4 separate regions of the Homo sapiens genome follow, and regions 1, 2 and 3 are each linked to region 4. The links come from fine-mapping of genetic effects on gene expression. A gene starts in region 4. Each other region holds a variant in brackets. All regions are shown on one strand. Distances are between the middles of the regions. Region 1 overlaps CARS1 (cysteinyl-tRNA synthetase 1). Region 2 overlaps NAP1L4 (nucleosome assembly protein 1 like 4). Region 3 has its middle 9.7 kb from the start of PHLDA2. Region 4 holds the start of NAP1L4 (nucleosome assembly protein 1 like 4).

Evidence for each region.
Region 1: its variant is fine-mapped to the expression of NAP1L4 in whole blood (TOPMed, PIP above 0.99). The same link has a PIP of 0.9 or more in blood mononuclear cells.
Region 2: its variant is fine-mapped to the expression of NAP1L4 in sun-exposed skin (GTEx, PIP 0.96).
Region 3: its variant is fine-mapped to the expression of NAP1L4 in whole blood (TOPMed, PIP 0.98).

What each region holds. Positions count from the first base shown.
Region 1 is chr11:3,010,478-3,018,578 of GRCh38, reverse strand. CARS1 (cysteinyl-tRNA synthetase 1) reads left to right here. Exons shown (of 23, transcript NM_001014437.3): 14 at 68-171; 15 at 625-722; 16 at 1,284-1,473; 17 at 2,730-2,798; 18 at 6,303-6,384. Among named protein-coding and RNA genes, the nearest start is that of CARS1-AS1, 15 kb to the left of the region's middle. RefSeq lists an enhancer at 3,665-4,164. The variant G/A (reference allele first, on the strand shown) is at 3,485.
Region 2 is chr11:2,954,341-2,962,441 of GRCh38, reverse strand. NAP1L4 (nucleosome assembly protein 1 like 4) reads left to right here. Exons shown (of 16, transcript NM_005969.4): 9 at 2,533-2,672; 10 at 3,898-4,043; 11 at 6,676-6,698; 12 at 7,796-7,915. Among named protein-coding and RNA genes, the nearest start is that of SNORA54, 5.5 kb to the left of the region's middle. RefSeq lists an enhancer at 1,093-1,599. The variant A/G (reference allele first, on the strand shown) is at 4,900.
Region 3 is chr11:2,935,044-2,943,144 of GRCh38, reverse strand. No RefSeq gene overlaps it. Among named protein-coding and RNA genes, the nearest start is that of PHLDA2, 9.7 kb to the right of the region's middle. RefSeq lists a silencer at 2,860-3,036. The variant G/A (reference allele first, on the strand shown) is at 3,834.
Region 4 is chr11:2,989,270-2,997,370 of GRCh38, reverse strand. NAP1L4 (nucleosome assembly protein 1 like 4) reads left to right here and starts at 5,042. Exons shown (of 16, transcript NM_005969.4): 1 at 5,042-5,117. RefSeq lists enhancers at 4,778-5,072, 5,617-6,473.

The sequences.
Region 1 (8,101 bases), 21 kb before region 4:
CATACATGTGTAATGGCTGTAGCACTCGGGAGAATAAGGGCGTTGGCTGTCTTGTGTCCCCCCACAGCACGGCAGTTGCGGCTGGCCTTCCTCATGCACTCGTGGAAGGACACCCTGGACTACTCCAGCAACACCATGGAGTCAGCGCTTCAATATGAGAAGTTCTTGAATGTGAGTCCCCAGCCCCTTCCTGGAGGTTGGTGGAGCAGCCTCCCCTGCACAGTGGGCACCTTGTGCAGTGGTGATAGGTGCACCAGCCTCCCGATGTCTCTAATGGAGACCAGCACATGGGTGGAAGCACCTCCATGCTAGTGGGTATAACAGGCTCGGGGCCACTCCTGAAATGGCTGACGGCTCAGCAGAGTGGACAGAGGCCTCGTCCTCCTAGTCACTGCAGTGCACGTCCTTCTGACTTGTACTTTCCACCAAATGAGCATCTGTAAACCTAAAGCAAGAGCATGTTTCTGTCAAAGAAATATCTTTTCCTTTCTTTCTGACCACTTGTGTAATTCTGGTCTTTCAGATTTTTACCAAAAATAAAATCACAGCAGTAGAAAGTTGTAACAGATATTTCAGGATGGAAAAGTTGCCTAAATGCTGTTAAACTGATTTTTCTAACTTCAGGAGTTTTTCTTAAATGTGAAAGATATCCTTCGCGCTCCTGTTGACATCACTGGTCAGTTTGAGAAGTGGGGAGAAGAAGAAGCAGAACTGAATAAGAAGTAAGGTGGTGCCATTTCTTTGGGGTTTTTGAGCATGCCCATGTTCTATGCCTAGCCTCGCATCTTGGCCACCATGTGTCCTGGACTGTCGAGGAAGGGCTGGGGACACTGTCGTACGTTGTGCAGAATTAATTCAGGATAGGCGGCTCTGCTAATGGGAGCTGCTCTGGGTGTTGAAGTGCATGGAGAATTTCTTTTTTGTTTTTTCTTTTTGAGACGGAGTTTCGCCCTTGTTGCCCAGGCTGGAGTGCAGTGGCGTGATCTCGGCTCACCACAACCTCCACCTCCCGGGTTCGAGCGATTCTCCTGCCTCAGCCTCCCGAGTAGCTGGGGTTACAGGCATGCGCCACCATACCTGGCTAATTTCAGATTTTTAGTAGAGGTGGGGGTCTCTCCATGTTTGTCAGGCTGGTCTCGAACTCCCGACCTCAGGTGATCCGCCCACCTCAGCCTCCCAAAGTGCTGGGATTATAGGCGTGAGCCACTGCGCCTGGCCACATGGGGAATTTCTATGGTGTGTTTTCAGGTCTGACTTCACATTCCTTCCTCTTTGTTGCTCAGCTTTTATGACAAGAAGACAGCAATTCACAAAGCCCTCTGTGACAATGTTGACACCCGCACCGTCATGGAAGAGATGCGGGCCTTGGTCAGTCAGTGCAACCTCTATATGGCAGCCCGGAAAGCCGTGAGGAAGAGGCCCAACCAGGCTCTGCTGGAGAACATCGCCCTGTACCTCACCCATATGCTGAAGGTAAGCCAGGCCCCAGGCAGGCGTATCCCTCAGCCTGTGTGGACACAGGAGCCAGGCCCCAGGACTGGGAGAACAGAGGCCTCTGGTGCCCCCCAGTGCTGTGCCTGGTGCCCAGCACCTCTGAGACGTGGAGATATGCTTCTGTCCTCTTTGGTTCCTGGTGTGCTTTTCACGCGTTAGAAATAACACCCATAAGCGGAGCACAGTGGCTCACATCTATAATCCAACACTGTGGGAGGCCAGGTGAGTGTATCACCTGAGCCCAGGAGTTCAAAACCAGCCTGGACAACATAGTGAGATCCCGGGTCTATAAAATATATTAAAAATTAGCCAGGTGTGGTGGCACACACCTGTTTTCCAGCTGCTTGGGAGGCTGAGGTGAGGGGCTCGCTTGAGCCCAGGAGGTTGAATAGTGAGGTGTGATTGCACTACTGCACTCCACTCTGGGCAATAGAGGGGAGACCCTGTCTCAAAACCAGACAAAAATAAGTAACATCCATATAGTTGTCCTTACTCAGAGCTATTTCTTTCCTTTGACTCCGTTTCCCTCTACTCCCATCTTGGAGTTTGAAAAGCAAAACCACGCCAGGCGCTGTGGCTCACGCCTGTAATCCCAGCACTTTGGGAGGCCAAGGCGGGCGGATCACAAGGTCAGGAGATGGAGACCATCCTGACTAACACGGTGAAACCCCGTCTCTACTAAAAAAAATACAAAAAACTAGCCAGGCATGGTGGCGGGTTCCTGTAGTTCCAGCTACTCGGGAGGCTGAGGCAGGAGAATGGCATGAACCCAGGAGGCAGAGCTTGCAGTGAGCCAAGATTGCGCCATTGCACTCCAGCCTGGGCGACAGAGTGAGATTCCATCTCAAAAAAAAAAAAAAAAGAGAAGCAAAACCAGGGACAAGGCCTCCTCTCTGAACACATCCTGTGCAGAGCCCTTCCCCGCAGTGCACCTTGAAAGGCCAGCAGGGCCTGGACTCAACTCCCCTCCCCTCTCCTCCTCTTTCCTTGTTGTTGGGCTCCAGTGGCTTCTGGCTGAAACAGAGCTGGAGAGGGTAGCTGTGAGTCAGGGCCATCCTGGAGCAATGAGGGCACCCTCAGGCTCGGGTTTCTGGGGCTCCTGGAGCTGCTGCTTCCATCTCTTTCCTGGTCTTGGGGCACCCCCTCCCGTGAACGAGGAACACAGCTCACAGCTGCTCGCCACATGCCGCCTTCATCTTGCCGCAGCTTCAGGTCCCATCTGTTTCTTTTCCTAGATCTTTGGGGCCGTAGAAGAGGACAGCTCCCTGGGATTCCCGGTCGGAGGGCCTGGAACCAGCCTCAGTGTGAGTAGCATGCAGGGTCCTGCCTTCTGCACCTGCTCCCTCCCCACTCCCTACCCCTCTGTGTCCCTCTGAACTGCCCCTCCTCTGTCTGCCCACCCACACCAGACCCTTCCGGACAGCGCCTCGAGCTAAATGGCAATTCTGGCTCTGAGAGTGCTAAGTGTGGTCAGCTGCCCTGCCGGTGTGGAGGGTCTGCTTTGGTTGTGACTGTTGGTTTGGGGCACTTTGCCATTGTGCTGTCCCATGAGCTTGGTCTTGGACCCCAACTACATAGGCCGCTGCTTATTTGCATTTTGCTGCGGCCACTTGGCATCATGAACACACATGACTTCGTCACATATACTGACCTGTATTCAGTAAATGCTTCATCGAAAGGCTGCAGAGCTCACAAACAGCACAGAATTTACACTGATGGGGAGATACGCCACTGTCTGCCTCGGTCCCCATGGGGCTGGGCAGATGCCCTAACAGGCCCAGTCCTGACCCTGAGCCCAGGTCGGTCCACATGGCCTGAGCCAGGACCCCCTGCCCCAGAGCTGTGGCCCACAGGTCAGGGGGAGGTCATCCTGTAGAGCCCCCTGTCTAGTGGGTCTGTGCGGTGAGAAAATCCATCCAGAACACCCTGGCAGTCTGTTGCTGGCTTCTGTTTGCAGTTGGCATGTGAGCAGACACACACTGTCAGTCCT[G/A]TCCTTCTGCTGTAGAACCCCTGTCCCGTCTGACACACCCACAGTCAGGCTTCTTAAAGATGGACTTCCACCTGCTCCCAGGTCAAGAATGCTCTTTGACTATTCGATTAGAATGCAGATCTAAATATTTAAATAGAACAACTGTAATTTTAATTAAAACAGGAGCTTAATACAAAGTCAAAATGCAAAACCTTTTTAAAATCCTGTTTCCTAATGACAAGTGGTGTGAAGAGCCCCCATGCGGATGGAGCTTACAGATGCTCCCCCAGGAACCAACTTGCAAAGAGAAAACAGTCCGTGTTGTAAGAAGTCCTGCCAGAGCACCTAGCCCATGTGCCTGGTGCCTTTTGCCAGCCTTAGCGCTAGCTAGCTTGGTTGTGGTAGTTGGTGTGGTATTTTTGAGACTTCCTGATATGAACCTTCTTTGGTGCTTTTAAGAAAACCCACATAGCTTCTTTGTTCTCTTGCGCAAATGATACTAAGATATTTATTTTCTTTAAAAACAAAAAACCAAAACACACCTCCTGGGTTAAAGTCAGCCTGCCTTTGAACTGCAGTGTTTTTCATCTTAACGGCTGCTGTGGTTGTGGGGGTGCCTTCAGCGTGCTGTGGACACGCATCCGCATCCCCCAGGCAGCCTCATTTGGCCTTTGCAGTCAGCTGATTGCGAAGAAGCAGCTGCGGCGAATGGTGAGCCTGCTGACAAAACGTCCTGTGCCCACACATCATGGCCATTTGACGTTCATGGATTAACTTCCAAATCCAAATGGTTTTAGGAGCAAGGGAGGCAGTTCCTCCATCTTGTACCACCTCAGTGTCGCCACACAGCCACCTGCTAGCATGCTCAGGTGGGGGTTGCAGCCCCAGGCGTTCTTGAGACACACCCCTGCAGCCATTCTGAGAGTTCCCCTCCAGTGCCCCTAGGGCTGGAACTGAGCCTAGCAGTGGGGTGAATGCCTCCCTTTCTGTCCTTCCCCAAGGCTTGTCTGGGCTGGCTGTGTGGTGGGTGGAGATACAGATCGAAAACCCCCAAGAAGTCCAAAGTTCAGATGCAGAATTGGGTCTCAGGGAGCTTGGCTTAGACTTAAGGGCTTGCTAGCCTGCCTGACTTTTGCACTTGCTAAATTTGTGTGTTTCTGTTTTTGAGACAGAGTCTCACTCTGTCGCCCATGCCAGTCCCTGCCCTGTGTCGTGGCCGCTGAGCTATTATTCAGTTATGGATATAGGAGTGTGAGCAGCTCTCAGCGAACAAAAACTCTTCTTTCCACAGCTGGAGTGCAGTAGCGCAATCTCCGGTCACTGCACCCTCTGCCTCCCGAGTTCAAGTGATTCTCCTGCCTCAGCCTCCTGAGTAGCTGGGACTACAGGCATGCACCACCATGCCCGGCTAATTTTTTTTTGTATTTTAGTAGAGACGGGGGTTTCACTATGTTGGCCAGGCTAGTCTTGAACTCCTGACCTCATGATCCACCCACTTCGCCCTCCCAAAGTGCTGGGATTACAGTTGTGAGTCACCGCGCCCAGCCAGCACTTGCTAATGTTTTTATTTTGGTTACTGAGCTGCTGAATCAGCTAAGGGGCAGGGAGCAACCTTGCTCAAAAGCCTAAAACCTTTTCTGTCCTATTAGAAAAAGAGAAATGCTAGCACAGCATGGTGGCTCACGCCTGTAATCCCAGCACTTTGGGAGGCTGAGGTGGGTGAATCACCTGAGGTCGGGAGTTCGAGACCAGCCTGACCAACATGGAGAAACCCTGTCTCTACTAAAAATACAAAATTAGCTGGGCGTAGTGGCGCATGCCTGTAATCCCAGCTACGCGGGAGGCTGAGGCAGGAGAATCGCTTGAACCTGGAAGGTGGAGGTTGCGGTGAGCCGAGATCGCCATTGCATGCCAGTCTGGGCAATGAGAGCAAAACTCCATCTCAAAAAAAAAAAGGGGAAATGCTTTGGGAGGCCAAGGCGGGCAGATCACAAGGTTAGGAGATTGAGACCATCCTGGCCAACAAGGTGAAACCTCATCTCTACTGAAAATACAAAAATTAGCCAGGCGTGGTGGCGCTTGCCTGTAATCCCAGCTACTCGGGAGGCTGAGGCAGGTGAATCGCTTGAACCTGGGAGGCTGAGGTTGCAGTGAGCCGAGATCACACCATTGCACTCCAGCCTGGCAACAGAGCAAGATTCCGTCTTAAAAAAAAAAAAAAAAAAAAAAAAGGGAAATATAGTAGAAAGGTTTTTCTATCCTGTGGCCACCTCCCCAGTGTTACTGTGGGTGGTGAATCTACGTGTAGCTGCTAATGTGCATGTAGATAGTAGGTGCTTAATGGAGATCATTCATCTTAAACAAGTGTATGTGTGACCACAGATCAGACGAAAGCACGGCCCGGGAGCCGCCAGCCTCAGCATAGGTAAGGCCCCAGCCTGGGGAGTGATGTCCTTGGGCTCCTTAGGAAATAGTCCCTCCCAGAGCTGGCCCCTCTGAAACCATAAAGACAAGCTGTTTCACAGCAGCGTGTCTGACCTGAGGAAAGCAGGGCCTGTCAGCAGCTGGGCAGAGCGGCGGCAGACCCACCTGCTGCAGTAGAAAGGAAGCTCACTTCATGCTCTCTGGCCTGAGAGTCTGTGTGACTCGCACACCTAGCAGGGACTGTGTGTCAGGGACGAGAGCGTCCAGGCTCTGGGATGCCGGTCACAGCTGTAGTGTGCACAGCAGCACTGCCCATGCCAGTCCCTGCCCTGTGTCGCGGCCACTGAGCTATTATTCTGTTATGAATATGGGAGTGTGAGCAGCTCTCAGTGAACCAAAACTGTTCTTTCCGCAGCTCGAGGCCACAGTCATGCCCTACCTTCAGGTGTTATCAGAATTCCGAGAAGGAGTGCGGAAGATTGCCCGAGAGCAAAAAGGTGAGGACCAGTTGCTGGAAAGAGTGTGGGAGCCACTCCCCTCACTGGGCTCCCCGGACCGGGCGTCTCCCCCGAGGCACTATGGCGTTCAGGCCGGATCATCCTCTGGGAAGGCTGCCCCGTGCACCACAGGGTGTTGAACGGCATCCCGGGCCTGGACCCACCAGGTGCATTAGTACCACACGCTCCAGTCACCACAGCCCCACATGTCCCTGCAGGGCAGAATCCTCGAGTGAGTGCAGCTGAGTGGGCAGTGGGGACCGAGGATGTGATATGATGGGCCAGGGTTGATTTGCCTCTCCTTCTCTGAGCCGAGGCAGAATGGTGGGTCCTCTGACCAGCCCAGTCACCACCTGCCATTTGGCTCACACTGGGGCTTATTTTTGTTCCTGGTGACCTGGTAGGCTGGGTGCGCTGAGGTGTGGCTCGTTCCTGCTGCCGAGTGGAGCCGAGCTGCAGCTTCCAGGGTTCCCTTTTCTGCTCAGGCATGCCAGATGAATGCTTGAACTTGGGGTTCACACAGTGGCCCCTCACTGTCCATAAGCAGCCATTCCTTCATCTTTTTGTTTGTTTGTTTGTTTGAGATGGAGTCTCACTCTGTCTCCCAGGCTGGAGTGCAGTGGCGCGATCTCGGCTCACTGCAAGCTCCGCCTCCCGGGTTCACGCCATTCTTCTGCCTCAGCCTCCTGAGTAGCTGGGACTACAGGCGCCTGCCACCGCGCCCGGCTAATTTTTTGTATTTTTTTTTTTTTTAGCAGAGATGGGGTTTCACCGTGTTGGCCAGGATGGTCTCGATCTCCTGACCTCGTGATCCACCCGCCTCGGCCTCCCAAAGTGCTGGGAGTACAGGCGTGAGCCACCGCGCCTGGCCATTCCTTCATCTTTTGAAATTTCTGAGATGTGTGTGGTTTAAGACTTAGAAAGTGCTGAATCTGAGCATTCGTTTTGACTGCCAGTTTTAAGAAAGTGTTAAACACAGCAAAAAGCAGCATCAGGCAGGCCTTTGCTTCTTCCTGTGAGTGGTTCTGAATTGGTGAGTAACAGCACAGCTGGGAACACACACTGAGGACTTAGGATGTGCTGGGCCCTGCCCACTGCTTTCTGCACATTGCCTCATTTACCACCATGATCCTCCAAAAGAGGAAAGGAGAGCCCTGGCCGGGTCACACTGACCTCGAGTGCTACTCCATCACCTGCTGTGCTAATTCTCCCTCCCCAGGGGGCCTCTGTGTGGTGGGAAGTCTGACCTAGGATCCACCTGGTCCCCATCTGTGCAGAGCCCATTATGGAGGGTCACAGTGGGGCAGCATCCAGGCAGGGCATGCTGAAGACAGAGCAGACAGAGACCCAGCAAGCCTCTAGGAGAAGCTGCACCTTGAGGAAGGATCAGGAAGCCTGGGTGGGTGGAGGGGCCGAGAGGCGGAGGAGCCGAATCTGGGCCTGTTTCGGGCAGGGGACAGTGGAGCAGGAGGCAGGAGGGCAGGAAAGAGTTTCGGGAGCTCGGGGCTCCACAGGCTGCAGGAGAGTGCAGGACACTGGGTGAGAGGAGAGGCTGGCCGGGCTGCTGGGCTGCTGGGCTGCCACAAGTGCTCTGGAGAGGGGCCTGGGCCTGACTGAGCCCCTAACAGGCAGCGGTGGGCGCACTTGCCCTGACCACATAAGCACCATCGCCCCTTTCCAACACCTGATGCCCTCAGCATTTCAAAGCACTGGAATC
Region 2 (8,101 bases), 35 kb after region 4:
TTCCCTTGAGCGCTTGCCTACCTGGATACACAGTGCACACGTGTGCCACACGGCTCCTGCCACACCACATGGTGTGTGCACAGTGTCACCCTGCTGCCACATCACACAGGCTTGGCTGGGGGAATAGTTGTTACTGCAGCCATTGGCTATAAAACAGTTTAACATTCCCCTACATGCCCCACCTCCCCCATTGTAAATTGTTGCATTATGATCAGCATACTTGAACCCAAATTTGTGTTAAATTAAATGTTTGATGGTTTCCTTAGTTTAGGTTCCTTTCAGTGTACTTACCAGTCAAAGAAGATGAAGCTTTAGAAGGCCCAAAGGTCGTTCAGTTGGGATTACAGACATGAGCCACTCAGGCCCTGCCTAATTTTGCATTTCTTTAGTTGCTTGTAAGATTGAGCATGGTTAGCATATTTATGGCTTACCTGGCTGTAGTGCGTGTGTGAATGAAGCAGTCTTATTTTCAAGCCACTTTTCATTTGGGCAGCTAAACAGTTTCTTGAATCATCTTCAGTTGTCTTTGGGTTACTCTTGACTGAACAAAGGCAGAGGGGAGAGAAAAAAGGAAAATAGGAAGAAACATGAATCTATCTATAGAAAAGTAGGCTGGGTGTGGTAGCTCATGCCTGTAATCCCAGCACTTTAGGAGGCCAAGGTGGGAGGATTGCTTGACCCCAGGAGTTCAAGACCAGCCTGGGCAACATAGGGAGAACTGGTCTTTAAAAGAGAAAGTAAAAAGGAGGGGAAAAAATGAGTAGGACATGGTGAAGGACCACAAGTCTAATAGTACTATTTGTTTTATTGGGGCCACCCCATGCCCTGGGTTGGTTGTCCACACTGTGGTCACAGCCTTAAACAGTTCTGGAATCATAGCAGTCTCTCCATTGGTTGGCTACTTGTCTTCCCTCTTTATGTTGGTTTTTTTTTTTTTTTTAAGCCGTGGAGGGTTGGGAGAGAAATAGGCATTTTATTTGATGCTGATTCCCTGTAGCTGCCTCTTCCTTTCCTTGTGATTTTTGCCAGGCAGGTGACTGGCCTTTCGTTTGTGTGGTTCATCTGCAGTGCCCTACCCGCTTCCTTTGCTCTTGCCAAGGCCAGTGGAGAGCTCCTAGCCAGATCCTGCTGTCATCCCTTCTAGAAACCGACTAGACTGTCTCCCTGATCCTGACTTCCTAAGCCCTCATGCCCCGCCTCCTCCTCCACCTTTCTTTGAAAGTTGTTTTTTCACTTCTCCTTTGTGCAAGTGGTTTGTTTGAATGTATAAACTTTTTTTGCTGTATATTTTTTTTAGTCCTCTTAATTTCCCCCCCGTTGATGGTTTTACCATTACAATGAAAATGGAAACAGCTGACATTTAGCCAGCCTTGCCTATAAACGCGGCTCTAAGTGATACAGATTAACCACCAAGGCAGCTCCTAGAGAGGGAGAGAGTTATTTCCAGTGTAGAGATGAGGAAACTAAAGCACGGAGACATTGAGTAGCTTCCGCGAGTTGCCTAGCAGTGTAGGCAGAGATGGGATTTGAATCCAGGCTGTCTGAGCGTAGAACTGGTCTTGTAAACTGTCTATAAATTACTCAACCAAGCGCATCTTCCATGTTTTTCTTCTATAAATAGGGATGAGGTCAATGTCTTTGCACATATCGATGCATCCATCCAGGTATTTTTCTCAAATAGAACAAATTCCTCAAAATAGAATTACTGAGTCAGGGAATATGCCTTTTAATTTAATTTTTTTTGATATTGCCAAATTGTCCTTCATAAAATCTGTCGACAGTACATGAGTGTGCTCAGTACCCCAAAATCCTGGCCGGGTCTACATATTTTTGTACATTTTGCCCCAAAGAAAGGCATCTCATTTTGGTGTTCATGTGTTTTGTTACTCGTGAGCATGAATGCCTTGTTGCTGCTGTTGGTTGTTCTATGCCTGCGTTCATGTTTGCATCCTTTTTCCCGGTGTGCTCACGTCTCTTCCAGGTCTGTAGCGTGCTTTGTAAGTGAGGGATGAGCTTTCTGTCCTTGTAGAGATTTGTCCTTTTCTCCCACCCACCTCCCGGGAGAAAAGCTGTGGGTCACTGCTTTCACTGCACAGCACAGAGTAGAGACCCTGGCTTCCCCCAGCAGGGTGGGGGCTGGGGCTTAGGCTGAGCGGAAAAGGACAGGAGGAGGATGGACTGCTGGTCCCCTTACTTTCCCCTAGTCACCTTCCCTCCTTCCAGGAAGCAAGGGCTGGGAGCAGCTAAGAGAAGCTAGGATTTCTTAGGAGAGCTTGACGCCTATTGGTGAGGAGGCATTGGAGGGGGAACATGCCCCTTACTCATGAACTGAACAGATATTTCCCGCCAGTCCATCGTTGGTTTTTTTAACCTCACGCTAGTCTTTTTTGCGGTGGAGAAGTTTTTCTTGTTCATGGCCCTATCTGTTGAGCTTTCCCAAAATAGCTTCTAGTAAGTGTTGTGTACTCCAAGCAATCTGTCCTCGTTATTTTTCTATTTTAACTGGTGCTTACTCTGAATTTCTACTTTTAGTCTTTTGTGTTAGAGTTCCACTTTGAACCCAACGACTACTTTACCAACTCAGTCCTGACAAAAACCTACAAGATGAAATCAGAACCAGATAAGGCTGATCCCTTTTCCTTTGAAGGTCCTGAGATTGTGGACTGTGACGGGTAAGAAAATGTCATTCTACCTTGTTTTTCTGAAACAAAATCAAAAGATAATTTTGTAACTTGATGGGTAAGATAGAAGTAAGGAATAAAGTACAGTCTTGAGTCTGCTTAAAAGCCTAAAAGCCTGGTAGATGTATATTTCAATAGTCTTTCAGTTTGGGAATGCTCATAGTGCAGAACTTGGAGATGGCGGCTGAACCTGGGAAATGAGTCACGTGGTTGCACATGCAAGCCTTTGGGATAGTGCCCTGTTTCTTCATTTTAATGAAAGTAGTGGATTCTCTAGACATCGTGAATTGAAGTTCTTAAAATTGAATCCATGGATTACCCTCAGCAAATAAATACTTATTGAATGAATGAGTCTGAGTCCAGGGCTATATTGATCAGCTGATTGCTTTGGAAATAGGTGGGGGCAGCATAGCTGTTGTTTGACTCACTGATTTCAGTCTTTATAAATCACTAAAGAGAGAATTTGGTTTAGAATTAATTTCTCCAGGTTGGGTTGACTGAGAAATGGTTTTAGTCTTGACTTGAAACAATTACGTTTATTTACCAGAAGTAAATAGTAATTGTTAATTCAGGACTTTATTAAAATCCTGCTAGAGTAATTTAGAAAGATGATTTTCCAGGGCCAGGACATCATGTGAGAAAAAGGCCTGGCCTTACCAAGCATGTTCTTAAGCGGGCAGTATTGAGATCTGCCAGGTGTTGCCTGGGTCTGTGGTGATTGTGTGTTAGAGAGAGCGTGCTGTGCTCAGCCCTCGCCAGCATCCCTGGGGCTGGAGTGGTCTGCACTGGCCATCAGTATTCCCGGTGGCCACCTCTTTCCTTTTTTCAGCTTGTCGTGCTCAGTTGGCTGCTTTGAACAGCAGCAACTCCTCCTTCCTTGGGAAACCGCGGACAAGTTCTTGTGCATCATGCAGACTTGACGGGGCTTTGCCACAGAATATACATTTCAGAGTCCTGATGAAATGTCTTGGGAAAATAATACCATTGTTCCAGAAGTCTGAAGTTCCAGTGGTCACACCCAAGTTGAAAGAGGACCAGGCTGTTTCTCTTTTTGCCAACCTCCAGATGAACTTCATGGGCCATTGTATTTGGTTTGCAGATTGGTTTTATTTCGTTTTCCAGGTTTGGCATAGAGCTGTGGTTTGCTTCCTGCATGCATTTGTAATGGATTTTTCTCATGGATTGTGTGTTCCTGACAGCTGTCTTGTCCTGGTAGGTGTACTATTGACTGGAAGAAAGGAAAGAATGTTACTGTCAAAACCATCAAGAAAAAGCAGAAGCATAAGGGTCGAGGCACTGTTAGAACAATTACGAAACAAGTACCCAATGAGTCCTTTTTCAACTTCTTCAATCCATTGAAAGGCAAGTCTGTTGGTTGTTAATATTCATTATGTTCTTATATAAAATAATTTTGGTCACCTGATAGATTCCTAACACCCAGAGACTTTAGTCCTCTTTTTTCAGGCAAGTGTGGTCAGTAGGGGCACATTGCTGTGTCCCAGGCTGTTCTGTTGGTGCGCTGGCAAGTTTATCGCGGGGGGCAGAGGTAGCTAGGACAGTAAGAGTAGGATTGTCATCTTCTGCAGGAAAGGGAAGAGCTTTACTCTGCTTGGCTGTAGCCCAGGCAAAAACTTGCAGTTCTGTTTTAAGAAAACTGAATCGAGTATTTGCACCTGGGCTGCTTCCTCACTTGGACACCTGGAGCACCCTTCTCCACCAGCTGGCATTTCTGCCCCGCTGTTGTGTCTGGTTCGCACCCCCCGGGGACCACTCCCAGCCTCGGAGAGCTGCTGGGTTTGCTCTGCAGGTACCCGTTACTGCTGTACGCTGGTTCTAGTTGTGCTGCTTTTGGATCATCTGCTTAGTCCCCCTTTTCTTGTAATTTTTTATGCATAATTTGATAGAATTTTTTGGAATTTATATATTGTAAGAAACACAAGTAGTTGGGACTTTCATTTTTGAAAAACATCGGCAGAATCACAGCTTGGAAGCTGCTTCTTTTTGTTTATTTATTTATTTTTTAAATTTTCCTAAGTGGTAAAATAAAGATGAGACCTTTGAGCTAGTAAAGGTTGACCAATTGATTTTAAGAGTAAATTTCTTGGGATTTTTCATATAATTTCCTAATCGCGAGAAAATGTGAAGGTCAAGCAACTTGTCAGTGTTAAAATATCCATATTCTCTTTAGTTTCCATGAACTAAAACATAATTTGAAGTG[A/G]AGAGATGCCAGCCCCTGCTGCAGATAATCAGTGAGTGTTTGTTTGTATGTGGGGCCACAGGGCGGATCTCTTCTCCAGTCTGAGTGATTGATTTTTTGATTTTGTCTCTGAGCTTAGCACCCTTATTTATCAAGCTGCCCTTCAGAGTTCAGTCCATTATTTTAATTGTGGTGCCTATTTTCTGCAATTAGACTTTGAACCTAGAAGATGCAAATACATACGGTTTGGGGAATGAGAGCAGTCATAAATTTAGATATTACATTTCCTTTTTTTGGAAGATTCCTTTTAGACACTTGGGTTGGGCATACTGGAGATTGTCTGTGAATTCAGCGTGAAGAAGGGAGGCTTTAATTTCTGGAATCACTTTGTGTAGGAAGTTCTCTTAAAACTGATTTAAAAATAATTTTTAGGATAAAAATGGAGTTGATAATGGACTCAAGGGAATTTTTAAGTGTTTTTTTTTTTAGATTCTAAAACTTTTAGGGTATGATGGTTGCACAACTCTAAAATTAACGTACTGAAAGTCATAAAGTTGTACATTTAGAGTGTATGCCTTTTAATGGTATGTAAATCCCATCAGTAAAGCCACTTTTAAAGTAATCAAACACATAATACCAAATGGTAAGTGCTTTGAAAAAAATTGAGGATGGCTGCGGAATAGGTAATGGGGTAGTGAAGGAACAGACAAAATGGACTCCTGTGGTGTGAAGTGAAGGAGGCATTAGCTAGTGAGTCCAGCTCCTTTGTCCTTAAAACTGCAAAGCCAGTCCAGAAGTATGAGTGTTCAGAGTCCTTGTACTATTCATGACTTGGGCCAGAGTGCCCTGGGGAGCATGCTGCTCCAGCATTTAGACACCCAGCCATGCTCCTAACCCATGTCTAAAACCCCTGGGTGATGCTGGCACACCGAGGCTTGGGAACTCTGCCTCACTCATGGGTGGTGTTTACGCACCCAACATTCATGTCTCAGCAGCAAACAGCAAGTGCTGCCAGGGTTGTGGTCGCTTAATGGGAAGGGAGACTCAGAGAGGAGAGCCCAGTGAAGATTGAAAAGGCAGGTATGAGACTAAGCAGAGTAAACATTCAACTCCTGATGAAGCTCAGGGTCTTGTAGTAAATGTTTCTAAAATCAGGGGGTTGGATCTTCTACCAGTTGAACGTTGCACAGCTTCATTGAGTGTGGTTAGAAGTCCCTATCTGTCTTGGTGGGCTTAGCTCGTCTGAGCATCAGCTTTCGCTGAGGAATTGCGCCACTCTACAGGGGCCCCTGGTGGGCATTCCAGCACTCTCCAAACAAACAGAAATGCAGTTTCTGTCTCGCTGATTTGCAGTGCCTTAGTAACACTCACAGCTTATAAGGCTTAAGGACTTTCTCTTTCCTGCACCATCATGTATAGTTCTGCGGGACATGAGTTAAGTTTCCCCATAAAGCACAAATGCACTGAATGGCCACAGCCTGGGGGCTGTTTGCCATTCCTCCTGTTAATATATTAACTCTCTCAAAATGATCTTCTCAAGCTTGAGTGCCAGCCCATGGCACATGATGGAGGAGGAGAAGGGAGGGGGGCATAGAGGCACTCAGGCCAGCTTCAGAAGTGGTGGATGGAGCTTGCAAAGATGTCTGTGAGGAGATGCAAGGCTTTGGGGATTTCTGTTAAACCTCGAGGTGAGAAATGTTACATTTTATCTACCAGCACAGCTTCCTCCTGTGTGGGCTTTAAAATTCTGGGAGTTGTCACTGTAATTTAAATATGTTTTGTCTTTTCTTTTTCTAGCATCCGGGGATGGAGAATCACTGGTAAGATTTGTTGTTAATAGTCTTATTTTCCTGTTGAAGTCTCTCCTGAGTGAATGTCTACTTGTCTACTTGTTAAAAAAAGTCCAGTCCTGGCTGTGTGTGGACTGGGTATGCCAGTGATCTTAATGCTTTGGGAGGCTGAGGTGGGAGGACTGCACGAGTCCAGGAGTTTGAGACCAGCCTGGGCAACATAGCACAACCCCATCTCCACAAAAAATTAAAACCAAATAAATTAGCCAGCCGAACATGGTGGTTCACGCCCGTAATACCAGCACTGTGGGAGGCCAAGGTGGGTGGATCACCAGAGGTCAGGAGTTCAAGACCAGTCTGGTCAACATGGTGAAACCCCGTTTCTGCTTAAAATACCAAAAAAAAAAAAAATTAGTTGGACACGGTGGCAGCGCCTGTAATCTCAGCTACTCAGGAGGCTCAAGCAGGAGAATCACTTGAACCCGAGAGGAGGAGGTTGCAGTGAGCTGAGATTGCACCACCGTATTCCATTGGGCGACAGAGCAAGACTCCGTCTCAAAAGATAAAATAATAAATTAGCTGGACATGGTGGTGCACTGTGTAGTTCCAGGGTCGCTGGGGCCCAGGAGCTTGAGGCTGGAGTGAGCTGTGATTGCACCACTGCCCTCCAACCTGGGTGATAGAATAAGACCCTGTCTCTTAAAAAAAAAAAATCCATTTCTGTTTCCTAAAACTCTGGGATTAATTTGAAATCATTACACATCTAAGTAAAAGTATGTGTTTCATATGTTGATTTCAGTAGCAAATGTGCAGTGCTTTAATACTGCCTGTTTCCCATATGTGAGACTGATACCGCCTACTCTGGGTGAGACCTTTGGACAAGTTGTGGAGCTGTAGGGCCCTCACTTCCCACTTTCTCTGCCATTTTGCTTCAGTAGCTCTTTAAAGCTACTTAAAGTTGTTTTAAAGGGGCTTTGAGTGTCTAGTGGCTGTCCCCCAGCAGTGCAGGAGTTTGGTGTTTTAAGTTAAGTAAATCAAAAGTGAGGGGCTGAGGTTTGGCTGAGGGTGGTGAAGTGAATGTTTTTATCCCATTAAAATGAGTTAACACGTAGGTTTTTCCTCCTCAGGATGAAGATTCTGAATTCACATTAGCCTCTGATTTTGAAATTGGACACTTTTTCCGTGAGCGGATAGTCCCGCGGGCTGTGCTGTACTTCACTGGGGAGGCCATAGAAGATGATGACAATGTATGAGGCTCGGGGAAGGGGGGCTTCCACCTGGGTGCTTATCTCTGTTGGTGCAGAGTGGCCCTGAATTGTGGCTTAGGAAACCCCCATGCCTAATCTTTTTATTACATCATCAGCCAGATATGTAGTCCAAGCTGCTGTCCTTGTTGTGGGGGGAATACGCTTGAAGAGGAGAAGTCTGAGGAA
Region 3 (8,101 bases), 54 kb after region 4:
GTCCTGCCTGCACCCCAGGGTCTCAGAAAAGGGAAGGTCATTCTCCAGTGGCCAAGGAGCCCAGGAACCATCCCAGGCCCAGGCCATTGTCAGCTCAGGAACCTCAGCCATCAGTGGTCACCGAAAGTCGCTGAGTGGTTGAGAGGTTTGCCCAGAGCCACCATCTGGAAGGCAGCTGGGAAGTGGGGGCTTGTGGCGGCCGCCCAGCCTGGCCTGGGTGAAGGGTGGCTGCTTCCCTTCTGGTCCTGGAGGCCAGGGGGTCTGCCACAGAACCTCAGCTCTGCTAGCCCAGGCCCTCCTTTTTCCCGACTCAGCCCCTGGCTGGGGAGGCAGACATTCACCGTCCAGCCCCGCCCCACCCACCCCACCCCGCTTGGGGCTCCCCCAGCCCCTGCCCTTCCTGTGACTGTTCACCCTGTGCGGGAACTGAGACTCAAAACCAGTGGCGCTGGGGTCAGGGCAGGAGTTTGGGGAGCAGCCCGGGAGATGGGAGGTGGGGCCTGGGGCACCCCCACCCCCTGCACAGGTGGCTCAGACGCTTCTGTCAGCTGCCATCACACGGGTGCTCCTGGGCAAGGAGGGAAAGAACCCGCACGGCAAGCAGCCAGGCACAGAAGACCTGGAGGGCCCTGTTTCTGTCCGGTTCTAGAGCCTGCAAAGCTATAGTGCCGGTGACTGCCTGGGAGGGATCTGGGGTGGGGGGACTGACCAAGGAACGCTTTAGAGGGATGGAAGTGGTTACACAGGTGTATACGTCTGTCAGAATTCATTGAGTTACATCAAAAATGGGTATATTTGGTTGTATATAAGTTAGTCCTCAATGAAGCTCAGCGTTGTTTTTTTTTTTGAGACGGAGACTCGCTCCATTGCCCAGCCTGGAGTGCAGTGACACCATCTCGGCTCACTGCAATCTCCACCTCCCAGGTTCAAGCGATTCTCCTGCCCAGTCTCCCAAGTAGTTGGGATGACAGGCATGCACCACTGCACCTGGCTAATTTTTGTATTTTTAGTAGAGATGGGGTTTCACCATGTTGGCCAGGCTGGTCTCGAACTCCTGACCTCAGGTGAACTACCCACCTTGGCCTCCCAAAGTGCTGGGATTACACGTGTGAGCCACCGTGCCTGGCCTGAAGCTCAGTTTTCAGAAGTCCCCAAAACAGGGTGATTCCACTTAAAATTCTGTTTTTTCCCTTGAGTCAGGAGCTATGGCTCCCTAGAACCTGATGGCTGCTGCTTTCCCCAGCAGGGTCACCTGGGACCCTTGTCCACAGCTGCCTGGCGTGTGGGTCCGCGGGTGGTGTGTACCCCAGGTCAGCCTACCTGGCCAGTCTGCTCTCTAGGCTCATGACTCCCGTTTATGTGGAGCTGGGACCAAGCCGACATCCCACTCTGCTCCTGTCCTGCTGCCCAGCAAACCTCCCCAGGCCCAAGGGCCACCCATGGGGCCAGAGCCCCCTTCCCCAAGTCCCAGGTCCAGGGCTTCCTGCCACCCCACCCATCTTGTCCCACTCTCAAAATGCCCTAGGCTGCCCCCAGCCCCATCGCTGGGCAGGCTGAGTCAGCATGAGCTGCCAGGATCCAAGCTTGCCCCTGAGGTGGGAGGCAGGGGTGGGGTGGGTAGGGGGCAGCCAGCTGGCTCCACCAGCCAGCCAGGTGGGTAGGTGGAGCCCCTGGCCTCTGCCTGGCTCATCCAGGCACACCTTGATATTACTGACCTCTGACCTGCCCCTGCTGGGTCCTTGGCTTGCCTGGCTCTGAGTCAGGGCTCAGGGCTGGGCAACTGGTGAGCAACAGAGGAACAGCCAGGGGCAGCGGTGGGAGAAGTGACCGTCCCAGACTCAGCCAACTCCAGCTGCAGTGCCCTGAGGGAGCCCTGGGCCTGCAGAAGGGGTTGCTGTGTGCAGAAGCCTGTGGTTCCCTGCCAGCCAGGCCAGCCTGGCCACAGCCTGGCATGGACTTCGGCCTCTGCCCCAAAACCCTCAGAACAGGTGCCTTCCCAGGTTCCTTCTGCTGGAGCAGGCACCTCCTCCCCAGCCCGCCCCAGGGAGCATCCCCATGTGGAGTGGGGGGCCCAAGGGACCCCAGGCCCAGCTGTTTGGACCCCACCCACCAGGAGACACTGGCAAGCAGTGGCCCCCAACAGCAGGGCCTCCTGGAAGGACGCCTCCTCGGGCTGGCCCTGGCTGAGCTTCTGATGCGCTGAATTTGGTGTGGGTTTCCAGGCACCTCATGCGCCTGGGACATTCCCCATTTAAGAGATGCAGACCCGAGTCTCAGGACAGAAGCCAGGGCCCAGCTCTTGCAGGGTGAGGCCTGGACGCCTCTTGCCGAGGCCAGGTCACCTTGGTGTGCCTGAGGGAGGCCCCGCCTGCTAGGCTGTCCCCAAGGTGCCAATCACTAGCCCATCCTGGCCATGCTGACTCATGGCTCTCTGAGGGTGGCAGCCGGATGTTACTTACCATGACAACCCAACAGCCTGGCCCAGCCCAGCCCAGCCCAGGAGAAACGGGGCAGCTACAGCTGTGTCCAGGACCCCACTCAGGGCGGACCCACACAGATCACCCTTGTCGAGCTCCTCAAGAAGTCTGTGGTGTCCACCAAGTTTCCAAATCTCCCTAGGTCTCAGTTTCTGTATCTGGGACATGGGGAGAAGCTTCACCTCCTCAGAACCCAGACCCTGGGCATGGCAGGGCTGCCCACACCGGCCCTCACCAGTGCCTGCCTGGCTGGAAGCCAGTCCGAGGAGGGAGGACAGTGCCTCACTGAGCAAGGCGGGTGCAGGGCTGGGAGGACAAGAGGGAACGCCTGGAGATGGGGCCTCAGGTGCAGGCACTGGCCAGAGTTGCTAGAGTCTGCTGCCCCCAGCCTGGGGGCCGCCAGCGAGGGCCTGAAGTGGTCCCTGGGTCTCAACCTGCCCCTTTTCAGCAGGGGCTGCCCTCCCCAAGGACCAGAACACCAGACCTTATGTGGGGACCCTTCCTCGTCATCTGGGGGCTCCAGGCATTCCTTGGCTTGCAGCCACTTCCTTCCGATTTCTGCCTCTGTCTCACGTGGCCTCCTACCCCTATGCCTGCTTCTCCATAGTTCTCCCTTGTGAGGCCCACCTGGGTAGTCCAGGGGAAGCTCCTGCTCTCAGGGGCCTTTCCTATATCACACCCTAGCCACTAAGGTCATGTTCACCCATTTGCCATCAAAGGTAACATTCGTGGGTTTCAGGGAGTAGAACATGGATATGTCTTATTGGGGGCCACCATTCAGTCCATGAAAGGGGTCTTTCAAACAGACCAAAGCACATGAAGAGGGGAAAAGACAGCCACGCCAAAGGCCACAGACACCCAGAGAGATGGCTGCCCCCACCCCAGGGATAGAGAAATGTGTGTGAAGACCTCAGTTTTTGACCACCAGATTGTGGGGTTTTGTTGTTGTTGTTGTTGTTGTTTTGTTCGTTTGTTTGGTTGTTTGGTTTTTCCTGAGACAGGGTCTCACTCTATGGCCCAGGCTGGAGTGCAGTGACACTTTCTCAGCTCACTGCAACCTCTACCTCCCAGGGTGAAGCAATTCTTCTGCCCCAGCCTCCCGAGTAGCTGGGATTACAGGTGCATGCCACTGCACTAGGGTAATTTTTTCTATTCTTAGTAGAGACAGGGTTTCACCATGTGGGCCAGGCTGGTCTCAAACTCCTGAACCCAAGTGATCCACTCACCTTGACCTCCCAAAGTGTTGGATTACAGGCGTGAGCTATTGCCCAGATTGACTTTTTTTTTTAAGTACAGAGTGCCCACCATTGGCCTAGCCATGGGGAGATTGGCATTGCAGCCCTTGGGGGAAAGGGT[G/A]AATAGGAACAGCCCCACTGGCAGGCCATTTTGGCAGTTACCACACATCTGAGGGCCTTGCTAGCCCAGCAGTGCCATGTCTGGTGTGCAGGAAGGCAGTGCCATGTAAGATGACAGCAACAGGGACCCAGCCCAAGCCCAACCATCACAAGGGGTGGCTGAGACATGGAGGATTCCAGATAATGAGGGCTGGGGTGGGGGGTTCCTGGAAGATGGCCCAGACAGAGGAAGAGACACAAGCTCATACCCCCGCCTGCATGGATATTCATATGTAAATGCATTTTTAAAACTGGTAAAGGGTACATCACAAGTTACATTCTTAACCATTTTTTAAAGTGCACAGTTCAGTGCCACTAAGCATAGTTACACTAAGCATATTCACACAGCATATTCACACTAAGCGTATTCACAGCGTATTCACACTAAGCATATTCACACCGAGCATATTCACACCGAGCATATTCACACTAAGCGTATTCACACTAAGCATTTTCACACTGAGCATATTCACACAAAGCATATTCACACAAAGCATATTCACACCGAGCATATTACAAGCATATTCACACCAAGCATATTCACACCGAGCATATTCACACCAAGCATATTCACACTAAGCGTATTCACACTAAGCATTTTCACACTGAGCATATTTACACCGAGCATATTACAAGCATATTCACACCACACCGAGCATATTCACACCGAGCATATTCACACCGAGCATATTCACACTAAGCGTATTCACAGCGTATTCACACTAAGCATATTCACACCGAGCATATTCACACTAAGCGTATTCACACTAAGCATATTCACACTAAGCGTATTCACACTAAGCGTATTCACACTAAGCATTTTCACACTGAGCATATTCACAGCATATTCACACAAAGCATATTCACACCGAGCATATTACAAGCATATTCACACCAAGCATATTCACACCGAGCATATTCACACCAAGCATATTCACACTAAGCGTATTCACACTAAGCATTTTCACACTGAGCATATTCACACCGAGCATATTACAAGCATATTCACACCACACCGAGCATATTCACACCGAGCATATTCACACCGAGCGTATTCACACTAAGCGTATTCACACCGAGCATATTCACACCGAGCATATTCACACCGAGCGTATTCACACTAAGCGTATTCACACTAAGCATTTTCACACAAAGCATATTCACACAAAGCATATTCACACCGAGCATATTACAAGCATATTCACACCACACCGAGCATATTCACACCGAGCATATTCACACCGAGCGTATTCACACTGAGCGTATTCACACTAAGCATTTTCACACAAAGCATATTCACACAAAGCATATTCACACCGAGCATATTACAAGCGTATTCACACCAAGCGTATTCACACCGAGCATTTTCACACAGCATATTCACACCGAGCGTATTCACACCGAGCGTATTCACACCGAGCATATTCACACTGAGCATATTCACACTGAGCATATTCACACCGAGCATACTCAGCATATTCACACTGAGCGTATTCACACTGAGTATATTCACACTAAGCATATTCACACTGTCATGCAGCCGCCATCAGCATCTGCCTCCATGATTTCTCATCTCCCCAAATGGAAACTGTGTCCCTATTAAACTCCCCATTGTCCTCTCCAGCTCCTGGCACCTGCCCTCCTACCTTCTGTCTCTGAATCTGACGACTCTTGGGACCTGGTACATGTGGAATCATTCAGTACTTGTCTTTTTGTGTCTGGCTTATTTCACTCAGCATAGTGTCCTCAGAGTCCATCCGTGCTGTAGCTTGTGTTAGAATTCCCTTCCTTTTTTTTTTTTTTTTTTTTGAGATGGAGTTTCACTCTTGTTGCCCAGGCTGGTGTGCAATGGTGCAATCTTGGCTCACCGCAACCTCCGCCTCCTGGGTTCAAGCGATTCTCCTGCCTCAGCCTTCCAAGTAGCTGGGATTACAGGCAGGCATCACCACGCCTGGCCAATTTTTCAGGTGATCCACCTGCCTTGGCCTCCCAAAGTGCTGGGATTACAGGTGTGAGCCACGTGCCCGACCAGATTTCCCTTCCATTTTAAGGCAGTGACTATTCAGTGTGTGTGTGGACCACATCGTGTGTGCCCATTGTCAGTGGATACTTGGTGGCTTCTACCTTTTGGCATGCTGCTGGGAATATGGGTGTGCATGGATCTCTAGGAGAGACTCTAACTTTTAGTTCTTGTGAGCATGTGAATGAGAAGTGGAATTGTTGGATCACAGGGCAATCCTATATTTAATTATTAAAGGAGGTTGGGTGCTGTGGCTCACTCCTGTAATCCCACCACTTTGGGAGGCCAAGGCAAGTGGATCACCTGAGGGCAGGAGTTCAAGACCAGCCTGGACAACATGGTGAAACCCCATCTTTACTAAAAATACAAAAAAATTAGCCGGGCGTGGTGCCACATGCCTGTAGTCCCAGCTACTCAGGGGGCTGAGGCAGGAGAATCACTTGAACCCAGGAGGCGGAGGTTGCAGAGAGCCAAGAACGTGCCACTGCACTCTAGCCTGGATGACAGAGTGGGACTCCGTCTCAAAAACAAACAAACAAAAATCAATTGTTAAAGGAAATGTAAATGCTTTTTTAAAAAGGATGAGGCCAGGCACAGTGGCTCACACCTGTAATTCCAATACTTTGGGAGGATGAGGCAGGCGGATTGCCTGAGCCCAGGAGTTCAAGACCAGCTTGGGAAACACAGTGAGACCCCATCTCTACAAAAAATATACAAAGTAGCCAGGCATGGTGGCATGTGCCTTGTAGTCCCAGCTACTCAGAAGGCTGAGGTGGGAGGATCACAACCTCAGGAGGTCAAGGCTGCAGTGAGCCATTATTGCACCACTGCACTCCAGTCTGGGTGACAGAGCAAGACCCTGTCTCAAAAATTTATAATAATAATAAAACAAAAAGAGGCCAGGCTCAGTGGCTCATGTCTGTAATCTCAGCACTTTGGGAGGCTGACATGGGTGGATTGCTTGAGCTCAGGAGTTCAGGACCAGCATGGGCAACACGGTGAAACCCTGTCTCTACAAAAATACAAAAAATTAGCTGGGTATGGAGGTACACACCTGTGGTCCCAGCTACTCAGGAGGCTGAGGCGAGAGGATTGCTTGAGCCTGGGAGGCGGAGGTTGCAGTGAGCCAAGATCACGCCACTGCACTCAGTCTGGGCAACAGAGCAAGACCCCATCTCAAACAAACAAACAAAAAAGGATGAGAGTGGCCCTAGGTGGGGACATGAGAGATGAACACTCAATTTTGTTTTTATTATTTTTTTTTTTTTTTCATTTTTTCTTGCTCTGTTGCCCAGGCTGGAGTGCAATGGTGCAATCTCAGGTCACTGCAACCTCCACCTCCCAGGTTCAAGCAATTCTCCTGCCTCAGCCTGCTGAGTAGCTGGGATTACAGGTGTGCACCACCATGCCCGGCTAATTTTTTTTTTTTTTTTTTTTTTTTTGCATTTTTAGTAAAGACGGGGTTTCACCATGTTGGCCAGGCTGGTCTCCAACTCCTGACTGCAAGTGATCTGCCTGCCTTGGCCTCCCAAAGTGCTGGGATTACAGGCGCGAGCCACTGTGCCCAGCATCAATTCTGAAATAATTCGAGCCTCTTTTTTACTTTTTATATCAACAATTGGTTAATATTTTTGGTAGGCGTGTTTTTTTTTTTTTGAGATGGAGTCTCGCTCTGTCACCCAGGCTGGAGTGCAGTGGCACGATCTCGGTTCACTGCAAGCTCTGCCTCCCGGGTTCACGCCATTCTCCTGTCTCAGCCTCCCGAGTAGCTGGGACTACAGGTGCTGGCCACCACACCCGGCTAATTTTTTGTATTTTTAGTAGAGACGGGGTTTCACTGCGGTGTTGATCTCCTGACCTTGTGATCCACCCGCCTCGGCCTCCCAAAGTGCTGGGATTACAAGCGTGAGCCACCGCGCCTGGACTTTTTTTTTTTTTTTTTAAGAGATGGAGTCTTGCTGTCTTGCCCAGGCTGGTCTTGAACTCCTGTTTTCAAGTAATCCTCCCACTTGGTCCTCCCAAAGCAGCCCTGGATTACTGGCACAAGTCACAGCACCTGGCCTATCTTTGGTAATTTTTTAACGTTGGAAATAATTAATGACAATACACCTGCCAGGGCTCCCCCAGACCGGCGGAATGAGAAGTTCAGGCCAGGAGGGTGAGCATCTGCGCTGTGAGAAGGCTGCCCCAGCGATTCTGCAATCTGAGCC
Region 4 (8,101 bases):
TTAACACAAATTTCAGTTCAGGTCTAGGAGGAGCCCAAGATTCTGCATTCCTGCAGTCTCCCAGCTGTGGCCTGTGCTGCCGGGCTACAGCCCCCTCAGGAGCAAGGCTGTCCAGCTCACTTCCTGTCTGCAGGAAATACTGGGAACAGAGGGAGAATGCAGGTGAGGCCATGAAGCAGCCACCACATTTGTGCAGAAGGTGGGGCATTCTGCCAGATGCCCGGCTGGCATCTTCAATACGTCTGCGTCAAAGGGAGCAGAATAGGGCAGAAGAGAAGGACTGGGAGAGACTCGAGAAACAAAACCACCAGGTTTGAGGGATAATCTTTGAAGGATTTGAACAAACCTGCTGTAAAGACATTTCAAAGGGGGTCGGGCACAGTGGCTCATGCCTGTAATCCCAGCACTTTGGGAGGCTGAGGCAGGCGGATCACCTGAGGTGGAGAGTTCAAGACTAGCTTGACCAACATGGAGAAACCCTGTCTCTACTAAAAATACAAAAAAATTAGTTGGGCATGGTGGCACATGCCAGCTACTCCGGAGGCTGAGGCGGGAGAATCGCTCGAACCCGGGAGGTGGAGGTTGCGGTGAGCCGAGATCTCGCCATTGCACTCCAGCCTGGGCAACAAGAGCGAAACTCCGTCTCAAAAAAAAAAAAAAAAAAAAAATTTCAAGAAATTTGAATGACCAGGTATTGGATGACAGTCAAGATTTTTGCTAATTTTGTTAGTGTGATAATGGCGGCTGCATGGAGAGGTGTCTTTAATGAGATACAAAGTAGCCTGAAACCTGTAACTCAGTATCCTTTAGCCAAGGAAACTGATGAAGTGCAGCCGGCACTGCAGCAGCAGCAATCCCTTCCACAGTGTATCCTCTTTACTGGCCTGTGCTGGAAACCATGTATCAAATATCCTGACAACTGGGCCATGAGGAAATACCCTTGTCTTTAGCTGCCACCACTGGGGTGAGCGGAGGTTGGCCCAAAGCCGCGGTGCCATCCAAGGAGGCAAGAAGGAGTGGCGTGTGCCCCATTTCCAGTGGTGGCTGCACAAAAACGTATCCAGATTGCCAGGGGCACGCCTGGTCCCCACAGCTGGTGAAGGCCTGGCTCCACCTGGACTGCAGTAGGGCCAGGCTGTGGCCCCTGTTTCACGCCCCCCAATTCAGAGTGATTCTGGGCCGCTTTTCTGCCTGGAGTTTCCCCGTTCTGAGGGCCCACTGCCCGGTGCGCCTTCTCTCTGCCCTTCCCTGACTTCCTCCAGTCTCCCCAGGCTGGGTCCGAGGGCCTGCAGTGACAATAGGCTGGCTGGGCCCAGGCCATTGGCTTGGCCCCCAAGAGGACCCCAGCACCTCCCTACCCTGCAATCTCTTGCTGTCAGGCTGCAGCAGATCCTTCTGGAACAACGTGGGGTGGACACTTTTCTTGTATAATATTAGTTTGCCTGTGGAAAGTGTTTCTTTTCTGTACATGAAAGCTCTGTTCAGCTGTAAGAGCCAGATTTACATCTTCCTGTTTTTCCCCAAAGAGCAATCTTTGGTGTCTTTACTATAAAAACGTCATGTATTCATTATTTAAAAATAAATAATACGGAAAACTTCCAATATAAAGTAGAAACTGAAAGACCCCGTGCCCTACCTCTCAAATCCCTACAACATTTGGGGTACAGTCTTCCAGATGCCTTCTTTCTGAGGCCGGGAAGCTTGCAAAGGCACTCCCTGTCTGCGCACCCCTCTTGTGTGGAGTACGCCATGGGTGTTTTCTGTTCTCCATATACCAGGAGAAACCAGCCACCTCTCTTGGATGTCTCCAGGGCCCCACTTTGTTAATGCCCCACAGGCTGAGCCCCCAGCCTACTGAGGGGGCTTTGGGCATTTCTGAGGCCTCGGCTCCAGCTCTTGGCGGCTGCGAGGTCTTTTGAGGAGTAGCGCCCCCACCACAGGTGAAGGGCATGGCCGCCCCCTCCAGGGCCAGAGCCACTTAGCTGGGGGCGTTAGAGGGGTTTCTCTGTTTTCTCCTCTGTTGAATGGGGCAGTGATTGCTGCCTCTACTTCCAGGCCAAGGTGTAGCCATTGTCAGTAGCGCCCAGGTAAGGGCACAGCTCGCCAAGTGCCAGGCACTTTTCCGGGTGCTGGCAATGTGAAGAAGAAACACGTGGTGTCTGTCCGGGACTGTCTCCCGGAGCCTCAGTGAGGACAAGGCAGCCAAGAGCAGAACTACAGGCAAGGTAGCCTCTGGAGGGGACTCTTGATCTCCAGGTTGGAGGAGGCTGAGGCAGCAGAGGGGTTGTAGACAGGTGGGCTCATGCCTGAGGCCTGGCAGAGGCAGCGCTGGGAAAACAGGAATGAAACTCACCAAGCGCCAGCTACCCTGGGAGTCCTGATCCCAGTGGCCCTCAGCTCTGGCTGCATGTCAGTGTCATCTGGGGACTTCTTTGTTTTGACACAGGGTCTTGGTCTTGCTCTGTCACCCAGGCTGGAGTGCAGTGGCATGATCACAGCTCACTGCAGCCTCTAAATCCCAGGCACAAGTGATCCTCCCACCTCAGCCTCTCAAGCAGCTGGGACTATAGATGCACCACCATGCCTAGCTAATTTTTAGATATTTGGTAGAGATGGGATCTCATCATGTTGCCCAGGCTGGTCTCGAACTCTTGGGCTCAAGCAATCTGCCCACTCGACCTCATTACCTAATTGCATCTGTGAAGACTCTATTTCCAAATGAGAATCTTCCAAGGAGAGAAACCACCAACCACCAAGAGAAAAACACCACCACCACAATCATTCCAGTTCCAGCAGATCTCCCAGGGAGCAGGTCCAGCTGCCCCCAGCCCCAAGGCCCAGCTCCCTCAGAGGATCCACCCACCCGGATGCCACCCCCACCAACCCCAACATCCAGGAGCAGGGGGATCCCATTACTGCAAATGGTCTTGAGACTTTATTAGATGGGAGGAAGGACCCTCCAAACTTCAAATGCCCAGGTTCTTGTGTCATTTCTATCATTGTTTATGCTTCCGCAAAGCATAAAGCATGACCTTTGTAGAAAAGTCTGAAAGTCTAAATAAGTAAAATAGGAATTGAGAGCACACACACCCTCTCCTAAAACACAGATGGCCAGACAGGACTGAGCACGCTGTGTGGGTCAGGCCTCAGCCATGCACCGGTCACCTCTGAGGGGTTTTTATGTTTTTTGTTTTAATTAGTTTTTTTTTTATTTTTTATTTTTTGAGATGGAGTCTCGCTCTGTCGCCCAGGCTGGAGTGCAGTGGTGCGATCTCGGCTCACACTGTAAGCTCCGCCTCCCGGGTTCACGCCATTCTCCTGCCTCAGCCTCCCGAGTAGCTGGGACTAGGGCGTCCGCCACAATGCACGGCTAATTTTTTTGTATTTTTAGTAGAGACGGGGTTTCACCGTGTTAGCCAGGATGGTCTCGATCTCCTGACATCGTGATCGGCCCACCTCGGCCTCCCAAAGTGCTGGGATTACAGGCTTGAGCCACCGCGCCCGGCCTTTTTTTTGTCTTTTTGAGACAATGTCCCCCTCTGGTTACCCAGGCTGGAGTGCAGTGGCCCAATCTCTGCTCACTGCAGCCTTGACCTCACGGGCTCAGGTAATTCTCCCACCTCAGCCTCCCAAGTAGCTGGTATTACAGGCCTGAGCCACCACGCCTGGGTAATTTTTTGTTGTTGTTGTTTTTGGAGCAGGGGAAGGGTGCTCTATGTTGCCCAGGCTGGACTTGTTGCCTCTGCCTCCCAGAGTGCTGGGTTTACAGGCCTGAGCCACGGCGCTCCGCATTAATTTCTTTTTAGAGATGAGGTTTCACTATGTTGCCCAGGCTGGACTTGAATTTCTGGGCTCAAGGAATCCTCCTGCCTCAGCCTCCCAGCTTACCTCTGAGGTTTATAACCGACGCTATGTTCTTAATCCCTCAACCAGGAGCCTTTAAATGGTTTCAAATTTTCCCCATTACAGGAATAACTTGCTAATAATAATAATAATTAGCAATTGTTTCAAAAGTAACGTCATCCCAAAAGAGAACGTTTCTGAAAAAAATGCACATTAGACTTGAAGACCCCCAATGGCACGGTTGAACATGGAAATGAACCAGCCTCAAAAGTCCCAGCGTAGGGGTTATTTTCCAATCAAATTGGATGCCTTTCTACAAAATGTGATGTGCACAGGCTGGGGCTGGTACCTTCACCCCAGCCCAGAGGGCACCATGAGAGGGAGAACAGGGCGGGCGAAACAGGCCAGCTCCTCCCCAGCCCTCTGCCCTGCTCTGCTTCAGGGGGCTGATCTGAGGGCCCAGTGCGCACTGCTTTTCCTCCTTGTCCGACAGGGTCTCCCGCAGGCCAGAACTAGGCTGCTGGGACACTGCGGGGCTCAGGGCGTGGGGGAAGAGATGCAGGCAGTGGCTAGTCCCGTCCTGTCCGCGGAGGTGACCCAGCCCCGACCTCTTCGCAGAGGAAGTGTTCTCCAACCTGGGACCTGGGGGATGAGCGGGGGTTAGGCTTACGTCCCAACCACTAACGGGGCTGGTTGAAAACGGCTCCCAGGCGGAGGGGCCCTCCGCGATGTTCTCAAGGAGTAGCGCGAGGGGACGACATGGGAGGTGGGGTTCTCACATCAGCGGGCGCACGGAGTGCTGGAGGCACCGACCCGCCGCGGACGGGATTGAACTAGGGAACTGGGAGGGCGCAGGAGATAAAGACGGCTGGGGCCGGGGCCCACGGAGAGGGGTGGTGCCCAGTGTCCCGCGAGGATGTGGTGCCACCCGGGGAAGGTCCCGGGAGCGGGGACCCGGGACCCCCCGGAACCACACACGCGGTCTCCACCTTGCCCCGCCCCATTTAAAGAGGCGGAGGAACGCAGGGCGCGCGCCGCGCGGAGGAATATTTGCATATGGCGCGGCGTTTCTTCGGAGGCTTGTGATTGGTTGCTGACTGCGGCGCGAAGCGCAGTTGACTTGCGCCGCGCTCGGCGAATCGCAGCCTGTCTTGCTCGCGGAGAGAGGAGCTAGGAGCCTCGGCCAATGGGAGCCGGCGTTGTTGGAGGCCACGGCGGCGCAGCCCCAAAGCGAGCGAAGCTAGGGTCGCCGCCACTGCCGCAGGAGGCGTGAGGTGCGGAGACACGGGTGCTGGGCCGGTAACGGCGCGCTGGGGAGGGCGGCCGGGCCCGGACGGGCGGGTGGGGCCGCGGGTCCGGCGCGGGCGCGGCGGCGGCCATCTCTGGAAGCCTCGGGGCGGTGGGGCAGGGGCGGGGCCGCGTTCTGGTCGGGGCAGGCAGCGGCGGCCGCGGCGGGGCCTGGGGCTTGGGGCCTGGAGCCCGGGCCTGGGGCGCTGGCGGGAGGCCCCTCCCAACTCCCGGCGCGCCTCGCCCGGCTGCCCGCCTCACTGAAGGTCAAGGCGCTTTGTTCTGCGCCGCGGGCGGCCTCCTGGGCGGCGGCCCCTTGGAGGAGGCGAAGACGGCGAGAGGCGGCGGCCGCTCAAATCTCCCGCTAGCCCAGCCCGCCCCGCGTGCGGGGGCTGTGGCGGTTACACGGCCGGGCGCGCCGGAGCGTTCAGGCTTCCCGTTTTTAAGGTGGAGACGTCCAGGACTTCTTTATTAGATGTTTAGGAATTTGAGTTTTTCCGTAGGGCGGTTGTCATCGTGAGCCTCTGTGGGGTCAGGCTGGGCTAACTGGGGTTTTGATGTCAGTTTGGTGTGGCCGAGGGCATGTCTGACGGGGAAGAAAGTCCTTGGCGTTGCTTCTTAGCTGTTGGGAGCTGTGCGGTGGGAGCGAGCTGGGCGGCGTGCGCTCCCCGAGGACTGGCCTGAGTGGCCTTAGACTAGTTACTCACGGGACTTGGTTTCCCAGCCAAGGTGGGCAGCAAGTCTGTTTACTATTTAAAACCGTCTTTCACAAGGGAAAAGCAAAATCTCCAAAAAAAAAAATTGTACATGTTATGGATGGGAAAGTGCCATGCTTTTCTTTCAGTTCAGAGATGGTGGAAGAGGTCACATTTGTATTTTTTGACCTGACCAGAGTCTTTGTTGTTTTCAATTTTCCCCTTCTGAATGCTTTCCGTTCACCCCAGCGAAGGATGGCCTGGTCATGATAAGACTTTCCACCGTCCACAGTTCTCTAAGTCTGATTGCGGGGCAGGAGGCAGACATGTTTAGGGTCCAGTAAAGGGGACTCCAGCCTTGGGACCTTTAGACCCTAACGTGTGTGTCACATCACCTGCCTGGGTGACTGTGCGCTCCTCTGGCAGGAAGGTCCGCCATTTCATTATGTTCTCGGAGGAATCGTCGGGGCACATTCGTCTGTGCTTTGGTTCGCATCCCCCAGTCTGCATTACTTTTTCCTGTAGTAACCCGTGCCTTATCCTCCTGCATTAGGTTTACGGGGTGAAAATAGACTTTTAAAAATTCTCTTACCTTAGAAATATACAAATATGTAGATTAGGTTGTTGGACCTTAAAGGTAAGTCTTTCTAAGTTACTACCTTCCTGTAATAGTAACTATACCTCTAAATGACTAATACCTGCACTGCGCACCAGGGACTCTTTCAGCCTGTTTGCGTGTGTTAACTCATTTCATAATCTAATAACCTGAGATAGATGCTATTGTTTTTCCATTTAACTACTCTGGAAGCTGAGGCCCTGGGAGGTTAGGTATAATGACTTGTCCGAGGTGACAAAGCTTAAAGACCCAGGCAGTTTTAACTGTACCCAGGGTTACTGCTTCTGTAGAGGGAATGAAAGAAGTTTTAATGAGAAATTGTTTTCATCATTGTGCTAAGCTTAACTGAACTCTAGCTTACGAGGTTTTGAGCTGGTTGATCATTTCCATCTCAAAATTCTCTTATTCCACAGAATGCCAAATGCCTCCTATAGTAGAATTTTGAGATTCAGACTGGGATGAGCAATTGCTAATGGAATAAATAATATGCAAATGTAAAATGAAGTTCAGAGAAAGCAACGTGGTGATAGAATGGGAAAGTAATCCAAAGATAAAATGAGTGACTACAGAGAGAGAGAAAATTAGTTATTTAGTAGTAGTTCACAAGTTTACTTAGAGATATTTTTACTAGAATTTCAGGGCCTTATGATGTGATTTTTATGAACCATTTTAACACGTTACTGCCGTCTTAAATAGCTGTTATTACATATCCAATTGCAGTCTTTTTTTTTTCCTGGTTGAGCAGTGTTAGCTTCAGAATGTCTGCAGTTATTTGTGCCTATATGTCATATAGGCACATATAACACTTTTGTGAATTTTGTTGTGTAAGCTTTAAATCCGGTACTGTTTTTCAAAATGAATATGGAGTAGTCATTGGAGAAATTGGTTGAATTCTTTGCAGTAGCAAATAAATTTTAATCATTTTTAAGTTTGATAACTTTGGTAAACTGAATTCTGAAAAGTTTACACATGTTTTAGGATGTCCTCAAAATGTACAGGGCATTGTGTTTTGCAAATTAGCCATTTAGCCATCAGATTCTTCTGTAGAATTTTGATCTTTTTGCCCATATGAGAGGTAGTTCTTATTTGTATGGAGGTTAAGTACCTGCGGATGGGATGTGTTCATCACCACTTTACAGTATGAATTTGAATTTGAAACTGAAATGAAAACTTCCTAACCTGTCAGAGTTTTTAGTAGCCTCTTGTTATTGACCGCATGTTAATTCCCTTTGTTAGCTATTCGCAGCTAAGTGTGGGGACTGAAATCTTTATTTTGTTTTCCTTCTTTTGAGCAGTTGATAGTCTCTAGCATCAGGAGGAGGTGACCTCAAATATGTATGTATATATAGTAGTGCTTTTCTTCCTTCCCTTTAGTTGTCTGCAGTTTAAAAATTATTGTGATAAGTTTATGTTGTACTTCCAAAAATGTTGCCAAAGAGCCTATATTTTTCAGTTTGTTTTGGAAGAAAAATACTTTGTGGGCAAGAAGGTGATTTAAATTCCTGACGGCCTAAGAGGCGTCAGCTGTGTGAAATAGGCGAGTGCTGTTACTGCTTGAAACCATGATGGTTTATATTTGAATAAGACAGCAGAGATGAGCTTGTTGGGAGTTTGGCCTGAGATTGCTAGCTAAGGAATGCTTGCTTTTTTGCTTAAAGGG